Homo sapiens: one gene and its partners. The protein of the gene in region 3 purifies or fractionates together with the protein of the main gene of each other region. This does not show direct contact. Each region holds a gene or a part of one and is shown on either strand. Other genes may lie near its edges. The genes, in order: GDA, GRK6 and SPMIP4.

Evidence for each region.
Region 1: the proteins of SPMIP4 (region 3) and GDA purify together in Homo sapiens (affinity purification with mass spectrometry; 2 studies listed by BioGRID and IntAct, with this or other methods). This does not show direct contact.
Region 2: the proteins of SPMIP4 (region 3) and GRK6 purify together in Homo sapiens (affinity purification with mass spectrometry; 2 studies listed by BioGRID and IntAct, with this or other methods). This does not show direct contact.

What each region holds. Positions count from the first base shown.
Region 1 is NC_000009.12:72,144,359-72,153,002, reverse strand, and holds the start of GDA (guanine deaminase), read right to left. Parts: upstream 3,564-8,644; 5' UTR 3,444-3,563; coding exon 3,321-3,443; intron 1-3,320. UniProt on the Homo sapiens protein: Catalyzes the hydrolytic deamination of guanine, producing xanthine and ammonia.
Region 2 is NC_000005.10:177,436,241-177,443,819, forward strand, and holds the end of GRK6 (G protein-coupled receptor kinase 6), read left to right. Parts: coding exon 1-41; intron 42-152; coding exon 153-290; intron 291-1,648; exon of another isoform or gene 1,649-2,630; intron 2,631-3,673; exon of another isoform or gene 3,674-3,791; intron 3,792-4,459; coding exon 4,460-4,597; intron 4,598-4,678; coding exon 4,679-4,813; intron 4,814-5,004; coding exon of another isoform or gene 5,005-5,010; exon of another isoform or gene 5,011-5,113; intron 5,114-5,494; coding exon of another isoform or gene 5,495-5,496; coding exon 5,497-5,550; coding exon of another isoform or gene 5,551-5,587; 3' UTR 5,588-6,651; downstream 6,652-7,579.
Region 3 is NC_000007.14:25,135,156-25,143,018, reverse strand, and holds part of SPMIP4 (sperm-associated microtubule inner protein 4), read left to right. Parts: intron 1-204; coding exon 205-379; intron 380-686; coding exon 687-778; intron 779-6,225; coding exon 6,226-7,047; 3' UTR 7,048-7,863. UniProt on the Homo sapiens protein: Microtubule inner protein (MIP) part of the dynein-decorated doublet microtubules (DMTs) in flagellum axoneme. May serve to reinforce and thus stabilize the microtubule structure in the sperm flagella.

The DNA of each region.
Region 1 (8,644 bases), on a different chromosome or scaffold from region 3:
AGAAAGCTGAAACTGGATCCCTTCCTTACACCTTATGCAAAAATTAATTCAAGATGGATTAAAGACTTAAACGTTAGACCTAAAACCATAAAAACCCTAGAAGAAAACCTAGGCATTACCATTCAGGACATAGGCATGGGCAAGGACTTCATGTCTAAAACACCAAAAGCCATGGCAACAAAAGCCAAAATTGACAAATGGGATCTAATTAAACTAAAGAGCTTCTGCACAGCAAAAGAAACTACCATCAGAGTGAACAGGCAACCTACAAAATGGGAGAAAATTTTCACAACCTACTCATCTGACAAAGGGCTAATATCAAGAATCCACAATGAACTCAAACAAATTTACAAGAAAAAAACAAACAACCCCATCAAAAAGTGGGCAAAGGATATGAACAGACACTTCTCAAAAGAAGACATTTATGTAGCCAAAAGACACATGAAAAAATGCTCATCATCACTGGCCATCAGAGAAATGCAAATCAAAACCACAATGAGATATCAGCTCACACCAGTTAGAATGGCAATCATTAGAGTCTATATTCTTAAAAGCTACATGCTACTTGAGCAGAAAGTATAACTCTGTATTTTGCTTTATACCAAAAAGTTGGCTAGATAATTTCTTTTAATTAACCTGCTTTTGAATGAGCTTTAATTTAATGTATTAAGAGCAGTTAGTCATTGGCATTCTCTGGGCCTAAACGAAGTTATACAAAATAAGGAATAAAGTTTAAAAGCGAGACCAGAAGGACAGAGTAAGCTTTGTGCCCTCTCGCTGAGATTCTACCCCAGATCTAAACTTGCAATGGAGAAATAAGCTCCTGATACTTCACACAGCTTGTCCCATCACAGAAACTATGTGTTACAGTTATTCAAAATGTAATCCACCCGCTGCTATAATCCACCCGCTACCTGCGTCTGAATCTCCTGGGATGCTTGTTGGAATGCCACTTTCTGGGGCCTACCCCAGGTCTATAGATTCAGAGTCTCTGAGGATGATGCCCAGAAATCAGCATATTATCAAGCACCCCTAGATATTTCTGATTCATTGCAAGGTTTGAGCTCCTAAAAATTTAGGAGTAAAAATTTACAGATCATTGGCCGGCGCGGTGGCTCACGCCTGTAATCCCAGCACTTTGGGAGGCCGAGGCAGGGGGATCACGAGGTCAGGAGATCAAGACCATCCTGTTAACACATTGAAACCCCAACTCTACTTAAAATACAAAAAAATCAGTGGGGCGTGGTGGCGCCTGTAGTCCCAGCTACTCGGGAGGCTGAGGCAGGAGAATGGCATGAACCCGGGAGGCAGAGCTTGCAGTGAGCCAAGATCAAGCCACTACACTCCAGCCTGGGTGACAGAGCGAGACTCCATCTCAAAAAAAAACAAACAAAAAAAAACCAAAAAAAAAATTACAGATCATAATAATTCAACATATTTCTGTATTCCAAAGGCGTATTATTTTCTTTTTTGAACCTTGAAATGTTTAAATAAATAATATATTTATCCCAGCAACTCTAAAAGTAAGATACTCTCCATTTTGAAATGGGGGATGTCAAGTTTTGAAATATGTATGGCATGCTCTCTCTTTAAACACAGCCAGGTATCAACTGCCTTGCACCTAGGAGGAGAGGAGAGCAACAGTTAGCAATCCACTGGTTCAGGAGCTCTGTACCATACATTCCAGCCACTGACTAACTCACCTTTGTATTCAATTCCTAAGTCATTTTGTCTTGTGGGGGAAGGGCATGTTTTCTAAATTTATAACTTCAGTATGATTTTTAGTGAGGAATAGACTCCCTGACTCAACTACTAATTGTGTGTTTGGGAAACTCTTTTATTCTTCTTCTGTACAAGCACCAGAAAAGGTATTTTTATTACTTCCTTTTCTTATTCCTCTCCACTGGTAAAACCAGTTGCCTGTTACCCTACCAATTACAATTCTGGATATGGGAAATTAATTTTTAAAAAAGAAACCCAAGAGTTGAACAGCTTCTTGTGATTAAAATAACACCTCTAATCTTACACCAGTTTAGCAATCTCCGTTCCTTTGCTTCCTGGGACTTGCCCCAAACCTGAGTTCCCTGAAACTTGAGGACCAAGTCCCCAAGCATGGGTTCATCAGTCTCAGGGTTTACCGGAATCTCCCTGGGAGAGCTCTGAGAGTTTTATCACCTTGGAAACACAACAGCAGGCTCCCTGAACGTGCATAGAAAGAGTATTTTTTAAAGCACCATGAGAAAACAGTGTTTAGTTACCCCCAAATGTAAGAGTCACGATTCAAAACTGTCACCGACTCGGTAGCATCTTAGTCAAGAATAGTATCTTCAACTTGACAAATCACAAGTATGTGTACTTTTGCTAACCAAACCAGTAGTTGGAAAACAGCTCAAAAAATCCCATCTCCATATTTATTTTATCATTTTTTTGTTCTAAAAAATGGAATGGCTTCACTTATCAAACTTGCCAGGCCATGGCTGATATAGTCACTATATGTGTGTATGGAACAGTAAATAGTAGACATCAAGTTACCTGTGTCATTTGTAGAAATCCTGATTTTGGAAAAGGAAGTGTAAAAGATACATTCAAAGAAGACATTTTGAACCTTAAAATGGAACTGCTTGCTTTGATGCAAATGGCTATGGTGTGTGTGTGTGTGTGCGTGCGTGTGTGTGTGTGTGTGTACGCGTGTGTGTATAAGAGAGAGAGAGGAAGGAAAAGAGATGGATGAATTATTTCTTTCGGACCATCCCTTCTAGTATTACAAGTTGTGGAACCTTCATCGTTAGTATATTATCTCTGTTGAATGATAGGGTGAATGTAATCAGTTCTATTTATTCTATGTTCTGGACACGCTAAACAACATCAATCAAATGACCCCCTCCTCTTATTTCTTTCACAATAAATTCAACCACATTTATGGAGAGCCTCCTGTGCCAGGCACAGTGCTAGGTGTTGGAAACAAAGATGATTTAAGCAAGATTGAAGATTATTGCCGGTATCTTAGGATTGGAACGGGGGGCGGGGGAGCGGGGGGTGACATCCTTGCTCCCGGCTCTACCGCAGCCCGGACTGCTGTCGAGCCAGTTGTGGCGTTAGCACGCCACTGCTCCCGACTTCTGGGAACTCCCCAGCCAGCCCACGAACCTAGCGCCAGGGTTCTCTCTGCGTTGCCCAAGAGCCAAAGACTCAAGTTCAACTCCGGAGCCGCGGCGCTCACTGCGCACCGAGCGAACCCCGGGCTACGCGAAGCACCGCGCCAGGTTCCTTGCACCTATCCTCCCGCCCGTCGGAGTGCGCTCGACCCCGCGCCTGCTTACTTTGCCGCTGTCGCTCACGCCGAGGAGGTGATCCCGCAGCACCTCCATGGGGCAGGTCCAGGTGGAGTGGACGAACGTCCCTCGGAAGATGTGCGCCAGGGGCGGCATCTGAGCGGCACACATGTCAGCGGCGGAGCGCAGCGCGGGTCTGCTGGTCGAGGAGGGCGCACGCGGCGGAGACGCAGCGGGACTCTCTGCAGCTGCGGGCGGCTGCCGGGCGGACACAGGCTCCGGCCTTGTCCTGCCCCCGCTTACCCGGGCGGTTGCCGGTACCCTGCAGGCCGCGCCCAGGGGCTGGCTCCCTACCTCCTCAATGCCAATAGGATTTTTCTCCCGCGAGTTGGCTCCGCGCTCCCGTGGGGTGTGGTCTTTCTCTCCACCCTTGCGTTAGTTTTGGTTGTGTTAACTCTTTGAGTTATCAAGATCAACCACAGCTGAGGCTCAGAAGATCAGCTTCCTCCACCTTCTATGAGTTGTGTCAGCCTGGCTCCTCTGACCCTTCAACTCCTAGGATCACTTACTTCTTCAACCTGTAGCACTCAGGTCCTGTACTTGCATTAGTTCAGGCACAGGTGAAAGGTCAGCTGGGGCTGCCTACCTTATGACCAGTTTCATTTTTAGTTTATGTAGACTGCAGAATTAGTATTGGTCCTCACCTGGAAGGTTCTGGAAGCATGTCTTACCGAACATCTCTGGGGACCCCTAAACTGGGTGTCATTGTGGACGCCAAGGTTCCTCTCTTCACCTTGAGGCTAATGTTTTTGGTTCTTGTGTTTGTCCGCAAACAATTCCAATACCAATTTTTCTCGTGTAAAATGAATGAATCTCTTTTATTTACTTCCAGTTGTACAAAGGGAGAAAATTAAGTTCTCAAGTCAAATAGGCAGCAATGGTACCATGGGTGCTGAATTGGGAATCAAGAGACTGTGGACAAGACACGTGGGCCTCAGTGTGCTTATCATCCCCACTTATGAAAATGGAGCTTGGACTGGGTCATAACTAGGGTCAGCGTTCCCACCCTACACAATGACCACAGGGTCCTTCACTAAGTTCCTCCATGAAACCCAGCTGGCTTCCATTCAGGGCCCTCTAACGTGCTGTTCCTTCTGCCCCTAATCCCTCTTGTGGCGCTTTACTTGGCAGCTCTTCTCACCACTGATTTGTCTCAAATGTCAGGCTCTTCGGAGTCACCTTTCCTGACCACCAAGTGGCACCGGACTCCCAGCAGTTTCTACTCCACTAATCCATCTTGTTTCTGCCATTGCATTTATTGTGTCCATTCTTCTTTATTTTGTGTTTTTTAGTTTACTCCTGTTTCCCTCTCACCAATACACACACACACACACACACACACACACACACACACACACACATACACACACCAATAACAGAAGCACCACAGGAGCAGGGAATGTGTCTTATGCCTAGAACAATGCCGGTGTTCCATACATGTTTATTGAATAAATGAATGGATGGTTTTTCTGTGAGCAGAGCCATAACCTGAGACAAATAACTATTTTGACAACTACATAAAGGGTGAGGGTTTCATTGCAGTGTGTGAGCAGTTTTTCTCTGAATTGCTGCTTTTAAGACACAGGGCTGGCTTATAGAAATGATTCGTTCCCTTCTCAGTTCCTTCAGCTCCCCCATAACCAATGTCTAAGGTGACCAACAAATCCTGGTTTACCAGGCACTTTCCTGGTTTTAGCACTGAAAGGCCGTTCAGGAAAACCGTCAGAACCATGCACACAGATGGTTGATCACCCTACCAGGGATCCAGAATTAGGAATCTCTGCAGCTGAGGTCATTACACTTGTCCCTGCTCCTTGTCACTTTCTCCTGATTCTGCCAACTGCACTCCCTCCTGGCAGTACCGACAGCCAGCACACTGAAAACATTCCCTTGTATACACAAAAACCTCAGACAGAAAGGTGAAGAAAATGGCTTTTGAGATAGGATTCAATCAGATGTTTCCAACAGATGTATTACTTTCCTAAAACAGATACGGTTAATAATTTTTTTGATGATTAGGTTTTAATGAAAACCTAAATGTCAAAAAAAAAAAATAGAGACTAGTTTTATGAACTAGAATATATCTACTTGATAGAACATTATACAGTTATTAAAAACAACAGGAGAAATATATAGCCACAATGTTAAGCTTTCAAAAATGGCTTCTGGCTGGGCACGATGGCTCACGCCTGTAATCCCAACACTTTGGGAGGCCGAGGCGGGTGGATCACGAGGTCGAGATTGAGACTATCCTGGCCAACATGGTGAAACCCCATCTCTACTAAAAATACAAAAATTAGCTGGGTGTGGTGATGCGTGCCTGTAGTCCCAGCTACTCAGGAGGGTGAGGCAGGAAAATTGCTTGAACCCCGGAGGCGGAGGTTGCAGTGAGCTGAGATCACGCCACTGCATTCCAGCCTGGTGACAGACCAAGACTCGGTCTCAAAAAAACAAAACAAAACAAACAAACAAAAAACAGCTTCTATGCTACGATGAAAACCATGAAAAGCTATAAGCATATTTGCTGGAATTGAAAAGGTACATCAAACAATGTGTGTTGTTCTGTTGAGATAATGGAATTGCTAGGTAGAGAATTTTGTTTTGATTTTTTTAATGTTGTTACTATGTGGTTTATAGGATGAATAATCATTATGATGCTTTTAAAGAAATTAATCGTCTTAAGCAGAAGGATTGGCCATGAACCTCCAGGTGACATGGCATTAGTGCTCCTCAGGTAAATTTTAGCTCTTTTGAGCAATGCATAGTTCCACTTCCATTCCCAGTCAAGTTGTAGGTACCTGGGCCCAGGATCCAGAAGCCCTGGGTGCTATACTGCCAGGCAGCATGGCTCAGCCACATGCCAGAAGTCTTGGCTTCCCAGCCAGGCATGGTGGCTCATGACTGTAATCCCAGCACTTTGGGAGGCTGAGGAGGGCGGATCACTTGAGGTGAGGAGTTCGAGACCAGCCTAGTCAACATGGTGAAACCCCGTCTCTACCAAAAATATAAAAAATTATCCAAGTGTGGTGGCGCACACCTGTAGTCCCAGCTACTAGGGAGGCTGAAGCAGGAGAATCGCTTGAACCCGGGAGGCAGAGATTGCAGTGAGCCAGGATTGAACCACTGCACTCCAGCGTGGGCAACAGGGTGAGACTCCACTCTCGGAGGTGGCAACTCCTTTAAATTGCTGGTCCTCCTGCAATTTTGACTCCCATTCTGGTATCCCCAGGGAAATATTCTCCTGGCTACAGAGGTTTGGAGGAAAGAGGGAGTACAGAGCTTTCATATTCACCCTCAAAATACAGCCCAAGCATCATTAGTGCTCCACCCCCACATATCACTTCCTTCAGAAAAAAAGAGCCCCGCCTTGGCATGGAATATTCCCTGGCTGCTTCTTCAGGCTTGGCTACCTCCACTCTCCCATATGCTATGAATCCGCTTTGCTCACACTCTTCTCTCTGCCTGTGGTGCCCTTTTACCACCTTACACCATGTCTGCCTCATTGTCCCACCCACTCCCCCAACCCCCAACCCCCCCTCACCTTTATCCAGGATATCTTTACATTTCTGCTCTAGAGTGTTAAGTGTTCCTCCCCTGAGTTTGTGGGTGTGCTGTAATTGTTCCATTACTCATCTATACCCCAAAGAAGATGTGTTTTTCTGAAGGACCATGTCCTCTTTCTTTCTGTGTATCCATCCCCTTAACACAGTCCCTGGTCACTAGGAGGTGCTCAATAGATTTATATGAATATTGAATTGCAGGAGATGGCTCTAGTGCCTATATTTTAGTCATAAAAATTAAGAGGCTATAGTGGGTGTCTGCTAATGGTGAACAATTCATTGGGACTAGAACTTAAGGATGAGTTTTATTTCATTTATTTAGTTTTCCAACATTTTATGAGAATGTTCAGACATAGAGAAAAATTTTAAAGCTTCATTTCTTACAATCTCAATTTTCTCTATTTCAGATGGAGCCAAGTAGCCCCCAAATTCCCCAACTACTGGGGTGGGATCATCGTGTTCTAAACCTCCAATTGCCTGAGGCCAAAACCTAGACCATAGCATGATTAGCTTTGACATTTTGCTCATCTCATGAATGTAATTATACCTGTAGCTTAGTCAGTCAGTCCTTTTTGCTAGATAGAACCTGACTGTTTGAAAAGGCTTTCTCCTCTATTATCTAATTTTGAGCCTCTCAACAACCCTATAAAATAGGAAGAGGATGTATTTTAAACATTCCACAGATGGGGAAACTGGGGTTCAGGGAGGTTGGCTTGCCTGTGCAGTTAATATAGGATGGACTTGGATCTTGAGTCCAGTTGTTCTCATACATTGTCTCATCACAGTAAACTCCCAGGAATTGTTCATTCAGTTTTGCCATGACTCACTTGGCCACTGCACTGTGGGCTGTCATCTACAACTTTCACATTGTACATGGTTTTCCAACAGTTGCTGGTGACACTCAGATCTAGCCTGCAGTAAAACTAAAGGGAATAATGGGCCTTGAGAAAAACAGGAATCCAATCAGCGTAGGTCAGTAGAATGGGCTATCGAAAATAACTCAGGTTTTCATGAGGTACAGAGAGTGCAGGGAAGCAGTTTAAATGAGAGGCCACTTTTCCTCTCTTATCTAGGAGAGAAGTTGTCATTGTACAGTGAAATAAATGCCTGCCTATTTTATTTATTCTTTTCATGTAGCTAAATCTATCAGTTTCCATGGTGCCCTGTGCTCACCATGGAAACTCTGACAAGCTTGTTATGCTTTAGAGAAAAAAAAAAAAAAGATACACCAAAAATTTGAGATGGGATAAATGCGTTCCTTTTAAAACTGTGTGTTCTTCTGAGTGGGAGGCCTTAATGGATAGCAAATCATAATGATCTCCATTTTCCAGTTCTTAGGTGAGAACCCAGGTTTGCCTATCCATAGAGGCAGCACCCTCGGCCCCCCAAAACTACTTTATCTGTATAGTGTAGTTATGCCAGTGAGTATCCCACCTCTGTATTTACTGACAATAGAGAGATGGCTCAATTCATATTTTGTCCATTTTTATGAGAATATAGTGCTAGTCCCTATAAATATTCTTTAACAGTTTGTTCACTTAACAAATATTTATTGGACATCTATATTATGATAGGCACCATGCTAAGCACTGTGGGTATGACTGTATGAAACAGATATTGTCTTACCTATATGGAACTAATATATTTTCTCTCTGCCACCTCTAGGAGTAGAAATTAATAGCTTTCATAGTATTACTGTAACATTTCCCTAGCATAATTAGTGAATGTCGTATTATTATATATACTACATGT
Region 2 (7,579 bases), on a different chromosome or scaffold from region 3:
CCGAGCGCTTTTCCCCGCAGGCCCGCTCACTTTGCTCACAGGTACGGCAGCTCACAGAAGCCTGGCCAGCCAGGGCTGGGGTGGATGCACCTTTCCCTCCCTCCCACCCACTCACCTGCCTGGCCTGCCTGGCCGACTCACCCCTGCCACAGCTCCTCTGCAAGGACCCTGCCGAACGCCTGGGGTGTCGTGGGGGCAGTGCCCGCGAGGTGAAGGAGCACCCCCTCTTTAAGAAGCTGAACTTCAAGCGGCTGGGAGCTGGCATGCTGGAGCCGCCGTTCAAGCCTGACGTGAGTGCAGCCCACTCCTGCTGAGGGCGGGGCCCAGCCAGGGCTGGGGCTCAGGGGCTCTTGTAGTATCAGCCAGGATGCTTCCAGTGCAAGTGGCAGAAAAAACAATCTAGTGGCTTAGCCACAGAAATAAAGATAATTCACAAAAAGGAAAAGCCCCAGGATGGGTCTGGCTTGTGGCATGCCTGGATGGGGCTTGGAGCCTCTGACAATGTCCTAGGAACTCTCTCTCCTTCCCCTCACTGTACCGTTGAGTGTGTAGTCTTCATATTGGGGTAGCTCTCCCCATGGTGCGGCAGCAGTGGGCCCCAGCAGCTCAGCCACCACAGTAGACAGAGAGCTTCTCTTCTCTTTTCTCTTCTCCTCTCCTCTCCTTCCTTCCTTCGTTCTTTTTTCCCTTCTTTTTTCCTTTCTTTCCTTTCTTCCTTTTCTTTTCTTTTTGGAGACAGGGTCTTGCTCTGTCCCCGAGGCTGGAGTGCAGTGGTGAGATCTTGGCTCCCTGCAACCTCTGCCTCCCAGGTTCAAGCGATTCTCCTGCCTCAGCCTCCTGAGTAGCTGGGATTACAGGCGCCCACCACCATGCCCGGCTAATTTTTGTATTTTTAGTAGAGATGAGGTTTCACCATGTTGGCCAGGCTGGTCTTGAAATCCTGACCTCAGGTGATCCTCTTGCCTCGGCCTCCCAAAGTGCTGGGATTACAGGAGTGAGCCATCGCGCCTGCCCTTGCCCAATAATTTCAAAAGAAATCCTCATGGGGGAAAAGAAGTCCCAAAGCTGATGCCCATTGCCTCTCATTGCTCAGAGGCCCCTCACTGGCCACACCCAGATCATACACCCACCCGAACCTGCACCAATGGGGGAGCTCAGTTCCCCAGAGGAAAACTACAATGCAATTGCCAGCAGTGGGAGGGGCTGTTGGGCTGGCCATCCTTCTGTGGGTGGTCACTTTTCCTTATGGAGTCTCACCTGTTAACTGAGCATCTCAGTGGGCCAGGCACCCAGCAGGCAAGAGTATCCTCTAGTTGTCAGAGTCCGGGTGGCAGAAAACCAACCTAAACTCACTTAAGCTCACCGTGGAGTGTATTGGTTCATTTGGCCAGAAAGTCCCAAAGTAGGGCCAGCTCCAGGGTTTCCTGCTGTGTGCCACGATTCTCCAGCTCTTGCCTGGCCTTCAACCTGTTGACTCTTTCCCTCCCCCTGAATTAGGCTTCTCTGTGTGACAGTCATAGGGAAGGTTCTGATTGGCTAAGATGAGGTCATGTGCTTTCCCCTTCCCATGTCTATGAGGACTGGTCCTGTAATTAACGGTTCACCAGGAACACTGGAGAGGCCCGAAGGATGGGCAGGGCAGGCCAGGTTGATAGCTGTCAATGACACACACGTTTATTGATTCAGCAAATAGCTGAGTGCCCATTTATGCCAGACCCTGGAGATAATGAGGCCCACTGGAGCCAGTCCTGCCCTTACATTCTAGTGGGAGACACACCCAAACAAACCCGTAAGCCAGAAGGAATTCCAGGTAATGTTAAGTGTGACAAAGAAAACTAAAGCAAGCGGCTGGGTGCGGTGGCTCACGCTGTAATCCCAGCACTTTGGGAGGCTGAGGCAGGCGGATCACCTGAGGTTGGGAGTTCGAAGACCAGCCTGACCAACATGGAGAAACCCCATCTCTACTAAAAATACAAAATTAGCTGGGCATGGTGGCGCATGCCTGTAATCCCAGCTACTCGGCAGACTGAGGCAGGAGAATCGCTTGAACCCAAGAGGAGGAGGTTGCGGTGAGTTGAGATCGCGCATTGCACTCCAGCCTGGGCAACAAGAGTGAAACTTCATCTCAAAAAAAAAAGAAAACTAAAGCAAGCTACGAAGATGGCAGAGAATGATGGTGGGGGGAGCGCTTTTAGACACCGTGGTCTCTGGGGAGGTGATGCTGGTGCAGAAATGTAAAATATGTGAAGCGGAGAGCCATGCCAAGGTTTGGGGTGTGAGCATTCCAGGCAGAAGAAACAGCCGGGTATTGCAGTCCTGAGGCAGGGGCCAGCCCTGTGAGGTGGAGCAGCCGCGAGGACACCTGTGTGGCTGAGTGAGCCCGTGCAGGCAAAGAGGAGTGCCGGCAGGTTCTCAGCAAGATGGGACCGCTGGGGGACCCTGGGCAGGAATGTGAGGTGTGGGGAGTGGGCCATAGTGGGTGTGAGTGGAAGTGGGGAGGCCAGTGAGGGGGCTACTGCCCTGAGTGACTGCCTCACATGGGCCTCACTGGAACCGCTGGCCAGGCTGGTCTCGAACTCCTGACCTCAAGTAATCTGCTCGCCTTGGCCTCCATACCTCTTGGTCTATACCTAGAAGTAGAATTACCAGGTCATATGGTAACTATGTTTAACCTTTTGGGGAACTGCCAGACTGTTTTCCAAAGCAAAGGTGGGCCCTGTCAGAGGCACTTACTTGAACTAAGAGAGCCTGACTTTCATCAGCTCGCCCCTGAGGCTGGCACTGCCACTCAGTCTGTTCTGTTTCCTGTGTACATCATCTCATTTAACCTTGAAATAACTACACTGCCTCTGGATCTTCCATTCAAAGTCGGAGATAAAATCAGTGCCCTGGAGTTTAACTTTGTGGAAGCAGTAGATGAAAAAGCAAGCTTGATGATATTTTTTTAACAGCTCTATTGAGTTTAATTTATATGATTTATATACCATACAATTCACCCATTTAAAGTGTACAATTCGGCTGGGCGTGGTGGCTCATGCCTGTAATCCCAGCACTTTGGGAGGCCAAGGTGAGTGGATCACCTGAGGTCAGGAGTTCAAGACCAGCCTGGCCAACAAGGTGAAACCCCCGTCTCTACTAAAAATACAAAAATTAGCTGGACGTGGTGGCGCATGCCGGTAATCTCACCTACTTGGGAGGCTGAGGCAGGAGAATCGCTTGAACCTAGGAGGCGGAGGTTGCAGTGAGCTGAGATCACACCATTGCACTCCAGGCTGGGCAACAAGAGCAAAACTCCCATCTCAAAAAAAAAAAAAAAAAGTGCAATTCATTGGCTTTTTAATTATGCAGTCAGCACCACGATAAATTCTTGAGTGTGTTCATTACCTGCCCCACTCTGCAAAAAAAAAAAAAACCCATACCCTTAGCAGCCATTCCCCATGCTTCCCTCCCGCTGCTCCTAGCAATCACCAGTCTACTCTGTGTCTCTCTCTGTTTGCCTACTCTGGACATGTCATAGCTATGGCATCACATAGTATGTGATCCTCTGTGCCTGGCTTCTTTCACTTAGCATAGTATCTTCAAGGTTCATCCATGTTGTAGCATAGATCAGTGCTTCATACCTTTTTAAGGCTGAATAATATTCCATTGCATGGATAGACCACATTTTCCTTACCTGTTCGTCAGTTGGTAGACATTAAGATTGTTCCCACTTTTTGGCTGTTATTGCTGCTGTGAACATTCCTGTACAAGTTTTTGTGTGTGCAGATGCCGCCATTTCTCTTGGTCTATACCTAGGAGTAGAATTACTAGGTCATATGGTAATGATGTTTAAGCTTTTGGGGAACTGCCAGACTGTTTTCCAAAGCAGCTGTACCATTTTACATGACAATGATTTTAATTGACATCTTAATTGAAGGATTTAGAAAACAATGTTAAGATAAAAAAAGAAGGTGGCCGCCTGGAGCTGAGGTGGGCTCCCAGTGTGGGTCTGGGGAGGTGGAGCAGTGGGAGACCGTGCCAGTCCTCTGATTGGCTGGGAGAGAAGACGGCAAGTCCCAGGTCATCGCAGGGCGGGGAGCCAGGGAGTCACCAGCTCCAGGCTCTGCGTGGTGGTGCCCAGCGGAGGGGCCGGCTGAGATTCAGCCTGTACTCCCCGCCCCAACTGCATACCCAGGAAGCTGTGGGCAGGCGAAGGAGGTGCCTGGCATTGGCCTTTACACAGCCTCACAGTCATTGAGCAGTGAGGAATAACGTACGCAGTTCACAGAGGGGAAAACCAGGCTTCGGAGAGAAGGGCCTGCCCCACTTAGGAAGTGCGTGGGGCACCTGGTTTCTCCAAATCAGAGAGCTGCTGGTGTCAGGCAGCACTAGGCCAAGACCCGAGGCAGAATCAGGGCTGAGCTGCCTTCGCGTGTGCGTGTGTGTGTTTCCTATCTGACCGTTGCCTCTGTCCCACCAGCCCCAGGCCATTTACTGCAAGGATGTTCTGGACATTGAACAGTTCTCTACGGTCAAGGGCGTGGAGCTGGAGCCTACCGACCAGGACTTCTACCAGAAGTTTGCCACAGGCAGTGTGCCCATCCCCTGGCAGAACGAGGTGGGGGCCTGCCCTGCTGGTGGGGTGGGCTCCAGGAGGCTGCCCTGGGGACAGCTGTCACAGCCGCCTGCTCCTCAGCAGATGGTGGAGACCGAGTGCTTCCAAGAGCTGAATGTCTTTGGGCTGGATGGCTCAGTTCCCCCAGACCTGGACTGGAAGGGCCAGCCACCTGCACCTCCTAAAAAGGGACTGCTGCAGAGACTCTTCAGTCGCCAAGTAAGCCCCAGCAGCGGCCTACCTGGGCCCCTAACCTGGCTCCAGGGGACGGTGGGTGGGAGGCAGAGCCGGTGCCCGCATGCGCTGGGAGTGGGCGTCCTCCAGTCCTGTTGTGGTGCCCAGGGTCTCTGGCCTCATTCCCGCCTGTCCCCCACCCCTGGCTGGGCTCATGGCCTCTTTTCTCTTTCCAGAGGTGAGCAGTGTGGGCTCCCCGTGGGTTGGCCTTGCTGCCTGGCCTCGGGGAGCCACGGGCAGCCCTTCCATGGCAAAGGCAAGATGTGGGAGAAAGAAGTCTGGTGCCCGCCCCACTCCCCCTGCCCACTGCTTTGATCCCCTGCACCCTGGCCCCTTCGAGCTGCCAGCTTTGCTTCGCTTGTCTCCCCGTGCCCTGTCTCTGCCAGCCCCAGGGGAGAGGGCTGGGCAGAGGCCTTGCCCTGGCAGACCGTGGGATCTACCCAGCCCCCTTACTTCAGTCTGTTGCCGGCAGCCTCTGCAATGACGCCCACCCACGTGTGGCCTGAGCTGCTGCTCCAGGCTCCTTGTGGAGAGGCCCCTCCCCAGAGTGCACCCCTCAGGCAGCTCCTGGCCTGCCCTGGCAGGGTCGGCCCCATGTGACGTCCCTCGTGGTTAATGGCACCTGCTCTGCCTCTCTCCCTCCCTCCGTGTCTTCCCCGTCCCTCCAGGATTGCTGTGGAAACTGCAGCGACAGCGAGGAAGAGCTCCCCACCCGCCTCTAGCCCCCAGCCCGAGGCCCCCACCAGCAGTTGGCGGTAGCAGCTACTCCGAGCGCCGTTTACAGTTTTGCACAGTGATCTTCCCCATTGTCCACTCAAGTCGTGGCCTGGGGAACACAGACGGAGCTGTCCCCAGTGTCCTCCGTCCCTCAGCCCCTGGCCTGGCTGAGTTTGGCAGGGCCTGGGCCATCCCTGGGACAAAGGTGCGTCCCTTCAGCTCTTCTCCGTGGAGCTCGGGGCTTTCTGTATTTATGTATTTGTACGAATGTATATAGCGACCAGAGCATTCTTAATTCCCGCCGCAGACCTGGCGCCCCCGCCTTGGCTCCTGGGGGCAGCCAGCCCTGGCTGGGAGAGCGGGAGCTGGCAGAGGAGCCACTGCCAAACTCAAGGCTCCTCTGGCCCAGCTTGGATGGCTGAGGGTGGTCACACCCCTGAGCCTTCAGCACTGTGCTGGCCACCCCGGCCTCTGAGTAAGACTCGTGCCTCCCCCTGCTGCCCTGGGCTCAGGCTGCTACCCTCTGGGGCCCAAAGCTGTCCCTTCTCAGTGCTTGTCAGCGCTGGGTCTGGGGCCTCTGTATGCCCTAGGCCTGTGCCAAAGTGGCCAGAGATTGGGCTGCCTGTGATACCCATCAGCCCACTGCCCCGGCCGGCCCAGATAGGTCTGCCTCTGCCTTCCAGCTCCCACAGCCTGGTCCCTGATACTGGGCTCTGTCCTGCAGACACCTCTTTCAGAAACGCCCAAGCCCAGCCCCTAGGAGGGGGTGGGGCATCCCTGGTCAACCCTCAAACATTCCGGACTCCCCTCATAACAATAGACACATGTGCCCAGCAATAATCCGCCCCTTCCTGTGTGCGCCTGTGGGGTGCGTGCGCGCGCGTGTGTACCTGTGTGGGTGAAGGGGATAGGGCGAGGCTGTGCCTGTGCCCCAGGTCCCAGCCCTGGCCCTTCCCAGACTGTGATGGCCATCCTGGTCCCAGTGTTAGGGTAGCATGGGATTACAGGGCCCTGTTTTTTCCATATTTAAAGCCAATTTTTATTACTCGTTTTGTCCAACGTAAGCTGCCACATGTCTCTGTGTGAATAGTCCGAGCACAAACCTGGCTAGCCGCCCCTGCCTGCCTCTTTCTTGCTTCCGGTGCTCCAGGGGTCTTCCTGCTCCCCTGGCCCAGCTGGAAGCGGGAAGGGATTGGAGGTGGGCCTGGAGGGAAGCAGGGTGTGCCCTTCCGAGGCCCAGGAGCCCCCAGGGCTGACTCTGAACTAGCCTCTCCAGACAGCCAGGCTTTGGTAGCCTTTGGGCTCACCCAGTGGGTTTCCCAACTTCCTAAATGGGATGGGGCCTAAGGAAAGAAGCCTTGGGTACCCACTGGGATGTGGGTCTGTTTCTGACTGCTGGTAAGGCGGGCCCCGTTGGTGTCCTCCCCTCCAAGGCTAAGGTGGCCTGGCTGCCTAAATGTGGACGTAAGAGTAGGGTGGGAGCTGTGTAAGGAATGTCTGCCCCAGGCCTGCGTTACCTGGACGCCAGCCATGTACGGGCCCCGGGCTGAGGCACGTGCATCATATCCACCCCTCTGTTTTGCCCTTGACACATTATGGGCAAAGACCTAGACAGTGGGTGACGCTGGCAGATAGGCTGTGGCCAGTGTGGGAGAGTTCTCTGAAGACGGTGGTTGAGCCGGCCTCGAAGTGGACATTCACCTGGGAGGAAGGGGGACTGGGAGGCACTCAAGGGGAGCTTCCTGCCTGGGCTCTGGGGCTGAGAGCTTGTTGCCTACCAGTCTGTCCCAGATCTGGCAACCCCATCACTGCTCTATAGACTCCCAGTGTCCCCAGCTCCCTGAGAATGCCCCGTAAGCCCCATCAAGCTTGTTCCTGGCCTCTGGACTGGGCACCCAGTGCTGCAGGAGCCATGTGAGCTTTGTAGCTGACAGTTCCAGGTTCAAGCCCCAGCCTGGCCACTTTTCAAGTTGGCCCTGCACAGGCGCTTCCCTGATATGGAAAGGTAGGTGTAAGACCCATCACCTTTCTGGG
Region 3 (7,863 bases):
CATTTATTTGATAGAATATTGTGTTTAACTCTATATATGGTTCCAATTATAGCAATTAGTAATTAACTAGTAATTAATGACAAAAAAAAAACCATTCTGACGTCAGCCTGGAATTTCCTTTGCCTCTTTCCTGCTGAGATCATGAATCAGGTCTTATTCTACTAGATGACATTAACAGCAGTAATCTTTATGTTCATATTTTAGTTTCCCAGAGGTGTTGAGAAAAATAAGCCAGTATTCTACCCAAAACCTCCTAAAACCTTCGCTCCTAACACTTCTTTAAATTCATGGGACCCTATTTGCTCTGCCAAAGAAGCCAACATACAAAGAAATCTTGAGAGGTCCCACTGGCTCACTTCGTACACTCATGATTTTACAGGTATGAGTTCACTTTCATACAAGTAAAAATTAGAACAAAATTGGAATATTTAACAAATGCTATGACAAGCTTTCAACTTCTCATGTTTTTGCCTTTTTCTCAAAGTATTTAAATCCTAAAGTATTTAAATAAGAATTAAGGTGGGTGGTAAATTTCTCTTCATAGGTAGCTGGGAGGTAGGGTTGGTTTTCATTTTATTGGTTCTAATTATATTACAAAAGGAATGGGTAAGTTTTCCTATAAAGGGTAATATAACTGTCGTTCTTCGTTTACCCTAACAAAATAATAAGGTGATGTTTCCATTAAGGTCTGGGGCCCATGGACCCCCTTGAACTGGATGATTACCATGAAAAGATGGTAGCAGAGTTAACACGAAAGATAGGATTTGACCCAGAGCCGGTAAGTAATTGCAGTCAACTCTCAGTTATTTTGGGGGAGAGTGCTGGGCTCCTTCTTGCTTTGCCACTTTTTGTGTCCTGGGTTTTAGCAACCAAGTTAGCAAATGGAAATTTTTACTTATTTTAGAAGTGAATTCTGAGCTGATTTGAACTGGTTTGAATACTTTGTCTGCTGTTTGGGAAAACAAGCAAGATTTCTTTTCTTGGGCCAGGCGCAGTGCCTCACACCTGTAATCCCAGCACTCTGGGAGGCCGAGGCGGACAGATCACGAGGTCAGGAGTTCGAGACCAGCCTGGCCAATATGGTGAAACTCTGTCTCTACTAAAAATACACAAATTAGCCAGGCGTGGTGGCACTCGCCTCTACTCCCAGCTGCTCAGGAGGCTGAGGCAGAAGAATCGCTCGAACCCAGGAGGCAGAGGTTGCAATGAGCTGAGATCGTGCCACTGCGCTCCAGCCTAGACGACAGAGCGAGACTACGTCTCAAAAAAAAGAGATTTCTTTTCTTCTTCAGAGTGGTTTTTTTTTTTTAACAGATTTTCTACTATGCTACTGTTGCTGAAATAACTTACAAAAGAAGCAGTTTACAAAAGAATTTAACTAGTGATTTAATGAGATTCCTAGTAAATTCCGTAGATCTTTGCTTTTTTTTTTTTTTTTTTTTTTCCTTGAGACAGAGTCTCACTCTGTTGCCAGGCTGGAGTACGGTGGCACGATCTCAGCTCACTGCAACCTCCGCCTCCTTGGTTCAAGCGATTCTCATGCCTCAGCCTCCAGAATAGCTGGGATTACAGGCACGCACCACCACACCCAGCTAATTTTTGTATTTGTAGTAGAGACGGGGTTTCACCATGTTGACCAGGATGGTCTCGATCTCCTGACCTCGTGATTCGCCCGCCTCGGCCTCCCAAAGTGCTGGGATTACAGGCGTGAGCTACTGCGCCTGGCCCTTTGCATATTTATATATCTTGTACATTACCATTGCTTTTGAAGAAATAAAGGCTTCCTCCTGATATTCATAATAATTGAGAGCTGGCTGAATTACAATGAAAAGCCAATACGTTCTCTGCAGATATCAGTAGAGACTTTTAAATTGATTATGCGAAATGGCCTGGAAGAAATAATCAAGCCCTTTAATGAGCAAAAGTATAATCTGTTGGTTTAATTATGTAAATGAGATGAAATGACCTAATAGTTTGCATATGTGTTGTTTTATTTGAGGCCTAAATTTTATTCTCGACGACTACAAATTTTGAAAACAAAATTAACATTTTAAAGGTATATAAATTGTGAAAAACACAAGGAAAAACATCTGTAAGATTATTTCAGTTTGAACACTTTAAAAACTGAGCTGGGTCAGGCTCGGTGGCTCATGCCTGTAATCCTAGCACTTTGGGAGGCTGAGGCGGGTGGATCGCCTGAGGTCAGGAGTTCGAGACCAGCCTGGCCAACATGGTGAGACCCGTCTCTACTAAAAATACAAAAATTAGCCGGGCGTGGTGGTGGGCGCCTGTAATCCCAGCTACTCTGGAGGCTGAGGCAGGAGAATCGCTTCAGCCAGGGGGATGGGGCGGAGGTTGCAGCAAGCCAAGATCATGCTGGGCGGGGGGAGAAAAGAAAACAAAAAAACTGAGCTGAGGGCCGGGCGTGGTGGCTCTTGCCTATAATCCCAGCACTTTGGGAGACTGAGGCGGGTGGACCACCTGAGGTCAGGAGTTGGAGACCAGCCTGGCCAACATGGTGAAACCCTGTCTCTACTAAAAATACAAAAATTAACCGGGCATGGTGGCACATGCCTGTAGTCCTAGCTACTCAGGAGGCTAAGGTGGGAGAATCGCTTGAATCTGGGAAGCAGAGGTTGCTGTGAGCAAAGGTTGTGCCACTGCACTCCAGCCTGGGCAACAGAGTGAGACTCCATCTCAAAATAAATTAATAAATAAAATAAAAACTGAGCTGAACATACTGATTTTACATTTGCTTCAGCATTTCCTAAGGTGATATAAAATCATAACACCAGGAGCAGGTTTATAGGCTGTGTTTTATCATTCACTGAAGGGTTTTTAATAATTTTTTTGTTGAATTTGCAATGAGCATTCTCTAAGTATAGAAAATATTATATGAACATATGTTGTCAGGTGTGTTCAACAACTGTCCAGATTTCCAGAGATTCGACCCTGTATGGTATGTACAAAATACATATTCCATTATATACAGGATGTTTGCCAAATATGTTATATGCAAAATCATTGTGCAAGCAAATCAACTCTTAAATATTTATGAATAACGAGATAAAATATACCTAAGATAATTGGAAGTTTAAAAGAAAGTTTTAGTGACTCTTGCTGGTTTCTGATTAAACCATAAAGAACAGACTGGGAAAACATGTTTTAATGGTAATAAAAATGTGTATGAAATATTTTATTGTAGTAGTGTAAAATAAAAGCACTAAAAACTGCTTCTTGCATACAGAAATATATATGGTCAAAGTACAATATGATAAGTCCTGTCCTTTTTTATGACAAATTTAACAAAGCACGTCAAAGAGCTGAAGTTTTTTCATCACAGTATTTACTCAAACTTGATTAGCTAAAGGCTGTAACAAATTTGTTACCTCAATATGGAAATTTCTCTGACTATGAACAGATTAGCTTTCAAAAGGATGTTCCTAAGTCCATTTTTTTAAGTCCAAGCTACAGTGATTATTTTCTCACTACTCTCATTTGTATTATCTCTGCTGTCAATTCCATCATCATTATACATACATTCTTTGGTAGTTTTTTTACTTTAACATATTATTATAAAATGTTTGAAACATACAGAAAAGTAAAAAAAAAAATGTATAATTAACACCCATATACTCACCACCTAGATTCTACCACTAACATTTTGCTATGCTTGTTTTATCACATAATCTATCCATCTTTCCATCCCTCTAACCATCCATCATCCAGAAATAATAAAAATATATTATTTGTATGCATTTTAGAGTAAATTGCAGACATTAGTATACTTCACTCCTAAACATGCAGCATGTATATTATCAACCAGAGTTCAATATTTGTTTGCGGTTTTTTTTTCTTTTAAGATGAAATAAAGTTCAATGCAATTGCACAAATCTTAAGTGTACATTCATCGAGTTTTAACAAACACACCTTTGTAACCCAAACCCCTATCAAGATACAGAATACTATCATTCCAGAAAGTTTCCTCCTCATACCCCCTCCCAGTCAGCTGCATCCTCTTCCCACCACCCAGCGTGTATCTATTAATAGCACTTTAAATACACTCACTACTTTCGCAGTTACCAGACATAATTGAGTTCATATTTATAAAACAACTTAAAAAGAAGCACAGACATGACACCTCAGACCAGTGTTTCTCAAAGCATAGCAAATCTCCAGCCTCACCATCACCTGAAATGCTCGTTGAAAATTCAGCTTCCATATATTTACATGCAAATCTGTGTATGGACATATGTTTTTGTTTTGGGAGAGTAGTTATATGATTTTAGGAAACTTCAAAACCATTTTTCAAAGTGGCTGTAACTCTTTACATTCCAACCAGAAATGTATGAGGGTTTTTATTACTCAACATAAATGCCAACAGTTATTTATTTCTCTCTTTTTGATTATACGGTGACTGTGGAGTATTAACTCATTGTGGTTATTTTTGGTTTTGTAAATAAATTTTATTAGAACATGGCAACAGTTGCTGGGCACAGTGGCTCAGGCCTGTAATCCTGTCATTTTTGGGAGGCAAAGGCAGGAGGATTGCTTGAGCCTAGTAGTTAGAGACCAGCCTGGGCAACATAACAAGACTCTATCTTCACAAAAAGAAAATAAAAGAACTCAGCAATATTCATTTGTTTATGGATTGTTTATGGTTGATTTTATTCAACAATGGCAGAGTTGCATTGTTACAATGATGATCACATGGTCCACAATGCTTACACTAAATTATGAGCTTATTACTACTTGGCCTTTTACAGAAAAAAGTTTTCTGATCCCTGGAATAGATCAACAAAATTGACAAACTTCTAGTTAGATTGATTAAGAACAAAAGAATACACACATAAATCACAGTTATAATGAATTTTTTTAAAAGATTATCATTACATATTCTCCAGGCATTAAAAAGATCATAACTTAAAATTGACAAGTGTCCTTAAAAAGTGGTCCTCCCAAAATTGGCATGAGAAGATAAAGAAAATCTGAATAGTCCTATACATAATAATAAATTGAATTTATCAAAAACCCTCCTAAAATGGAAAGTCTAGACCCAAGTGGTTTTACTGGTAAATCTTTTCTAATCTTCAAGGAGAAATAACACCAATCTTACACAAGATTTTTAGAATGTAAGGAAGGTTAAATTACCCCATATTATGGGTAATCTCTTTTGTTGAAGTTGTAGCATAATCCCAAGTACCTCAGAATGTGACCTTATTTGGAAATAGGGTCATTTCCAAGGTAATCAAGTTAAAATGAGGTCATGAGGGTGAATTTAATCCAATCTAACTGGTGTTCTTATAAAAAGAAAATTTAGAGGTAGACATGCTGCAGAGAGAATGTCTTGTGAACATGAAAGCAGACAGTGGGGTCATGCCTCTACAAGCCAAGGGACACTAAAGATTTCCATTAAACCACCCAGAATCTTGGGAAGAGGCAGGAATCAGATTTTTCTTCACAACCCTCAGAAGAAACCAACCCTGCCAATACACTGAGGCTGAACTTCCAGAACTATGAGACAATAAATTTCTATTGTTGAAGCCACCCAGTTTGTGGTACCTCATTATGGCAGCGCTAGCAAATTAATACACTCCGCAACTTGTTTCATGAGGTTCGCATTACTCTAATACTGTCAAAACCTGCCAAAACCATAAGAGAATGAAAACCAAAGAGAAAGGAAAGAAAAAAGAAAAAATAAAAAAAAAAAAAAAAAAGAAAATTCAGCTTCCTGGGGCCCACTACAGGCCTTCTGACCCACAGTCTTGGAGGGTCTTAGGAGTCAGGAATCTCCTGCCAGCTCTGCAGATGATTCTGACTCAGCCAAGGTTTAAGGGCACTTGCTAAGGCCTAATAAAGGAGACTTTGGCTGAGATTAAATAACTGCACACGCGGCTAATGCCATCTGTTAGTGATGGACAGAAGTTTTATTCCAGTGATTGCTTTATATCTTTGAAGTTTAAAAGCAGAGTTCCCACACAGAAAGAGTTCTGTATAGCCAAATAAAAAACATGCCCCTTTCATACTCTCTAAAACCAGTAAAGGAGGAAAATGTATTTGGACCCAAATTTCAATGTCTTTAAATTAGTATCAAAGAGCATTGCAATGTACACTCCTATGCCCATCTCGTGTACTCAGACAATGAAAATGGGTATGACTTTTGACCTACCATTTGTGGCAATATCCCTGATCAATTTTTTTCTCCTTTTTATCCCACAACTACAGCAAGAAAAATTCCACCCTGTCTTCAAACCTCCCAGACCGTTGGAAGGACGAATTGCCCGATTAATTCAGAACCGACGTTCTCTGGAGGCTATAGTCCAGCAAAGACCACGTTCCTGTCCAGATTGTACTCCTAGAGTTTTGTGTAATTTTCATACCTTTGTACCCAGTTCTAAAGAAATGGTGGCACTTAGTGATAACATACCAGCCGGTGTGACCCATAAAAACCAGGATATTGAAGAGAAGATCATAGAAGAACAGAGCTTGCTGTCTACCTATGAACTCCCATCTTGTTACCCAACAAAAGACCTAACTAGCATTTATGACATAAAGCCATTTCCAAAAATCACAGATACTAAAAAGACAGAAGATTTATACTGGAGACAGCAGTCACTAAAAACCCAACCCACACCTTACTGTAAACCAGACCACTGGATTCACTATGAAAATCTTAAATCTCCCCTACGTGATCAGTATAATATGTGTCCAGACCCTGTTAGCCTTAGTAAACCTAGTGTTTTACAAAATAAACAAGACACGGAAGCTTTCACTTTAGAACATTTTTTAAGTAAGCCAGAAGAAGAGTTGTTCTTGAATATGGAAAACAATGAAGAAACAAGACCTGTTCTTGGTTGGATTCCTAGAGCTGGAGTGACCAAACCTCAGACCAACCTGCTGGAGCTTAAGAACTCTTTTTCAAAAACTGGTGCACAAAAGCGTTTCCATAAATCAATTCTAGAAGACCATAAAGACCTCAGGGATAATGAGCATTCGGGGATGAAGCACCAATTCTATGGCCATAATTCCTATTATTTCTATAATTGAGATACTCATTCTTCCCTTCAAAACCCAGCCTCTTGCAAGAAGCTAAAAAATATAACAGAATTTCCTTCGTATTGCTGGATTCTGTTTTCTAGATTAAACCACAAGGACCTTGTTAGTGAGGTTTACATTTTCAGGAATTTAAGTTAGTATCTGGTTGGAGGAACCCAGAAAAGGTGATGTTATGACTTCTTGAAAAGTTTAACAATTTGGCAATAAAATATTAGAACTAGAAAAATTTATAGTCTTTAATCTCTCATCTTCAGATTATACAAGGAAATTTTCCAAAATCACAAAAAGCAATGTGTACAACAAAGTTTACATCATTGTTTCACCAAAAAAAATTGAAAAGCTGGAAAGAACTCAAATGATCAATAATTAATGAATGACTATACAAATTATAGTATCTTAATAAAAATGAGAACACTGTCCCTTTATGTAAATTTTTGTACATAGTAGCATTAGGTAGAAAAGACAAAACCCAAACACCTAGTTAATTGAGGGATGGACACCTCTAAAAACTATATTGTCTTAAAAGTATGTGGACTCTGTTCCTTTATGTAAACATGTAAAGAAAATAAGTCAGCGAAAAAAATGAAACCCAAAACTCTCTGCATGTACACATTACAAATTGAATTGTTTGCTTACCCTTAACCTTCTGATTGAGAAACATAACTGTTTCTTTTATGCAGATAAAATTATTTTACTGAAGATCTAGCAATGGCCTTAATTAGCAACTGGTGAGTTCTAATTATAGCAAGAAAGGATGGCTTGGTATCAGTTATTACAGAGCCCCAAATCTTCATTTCTGGAGTGTGT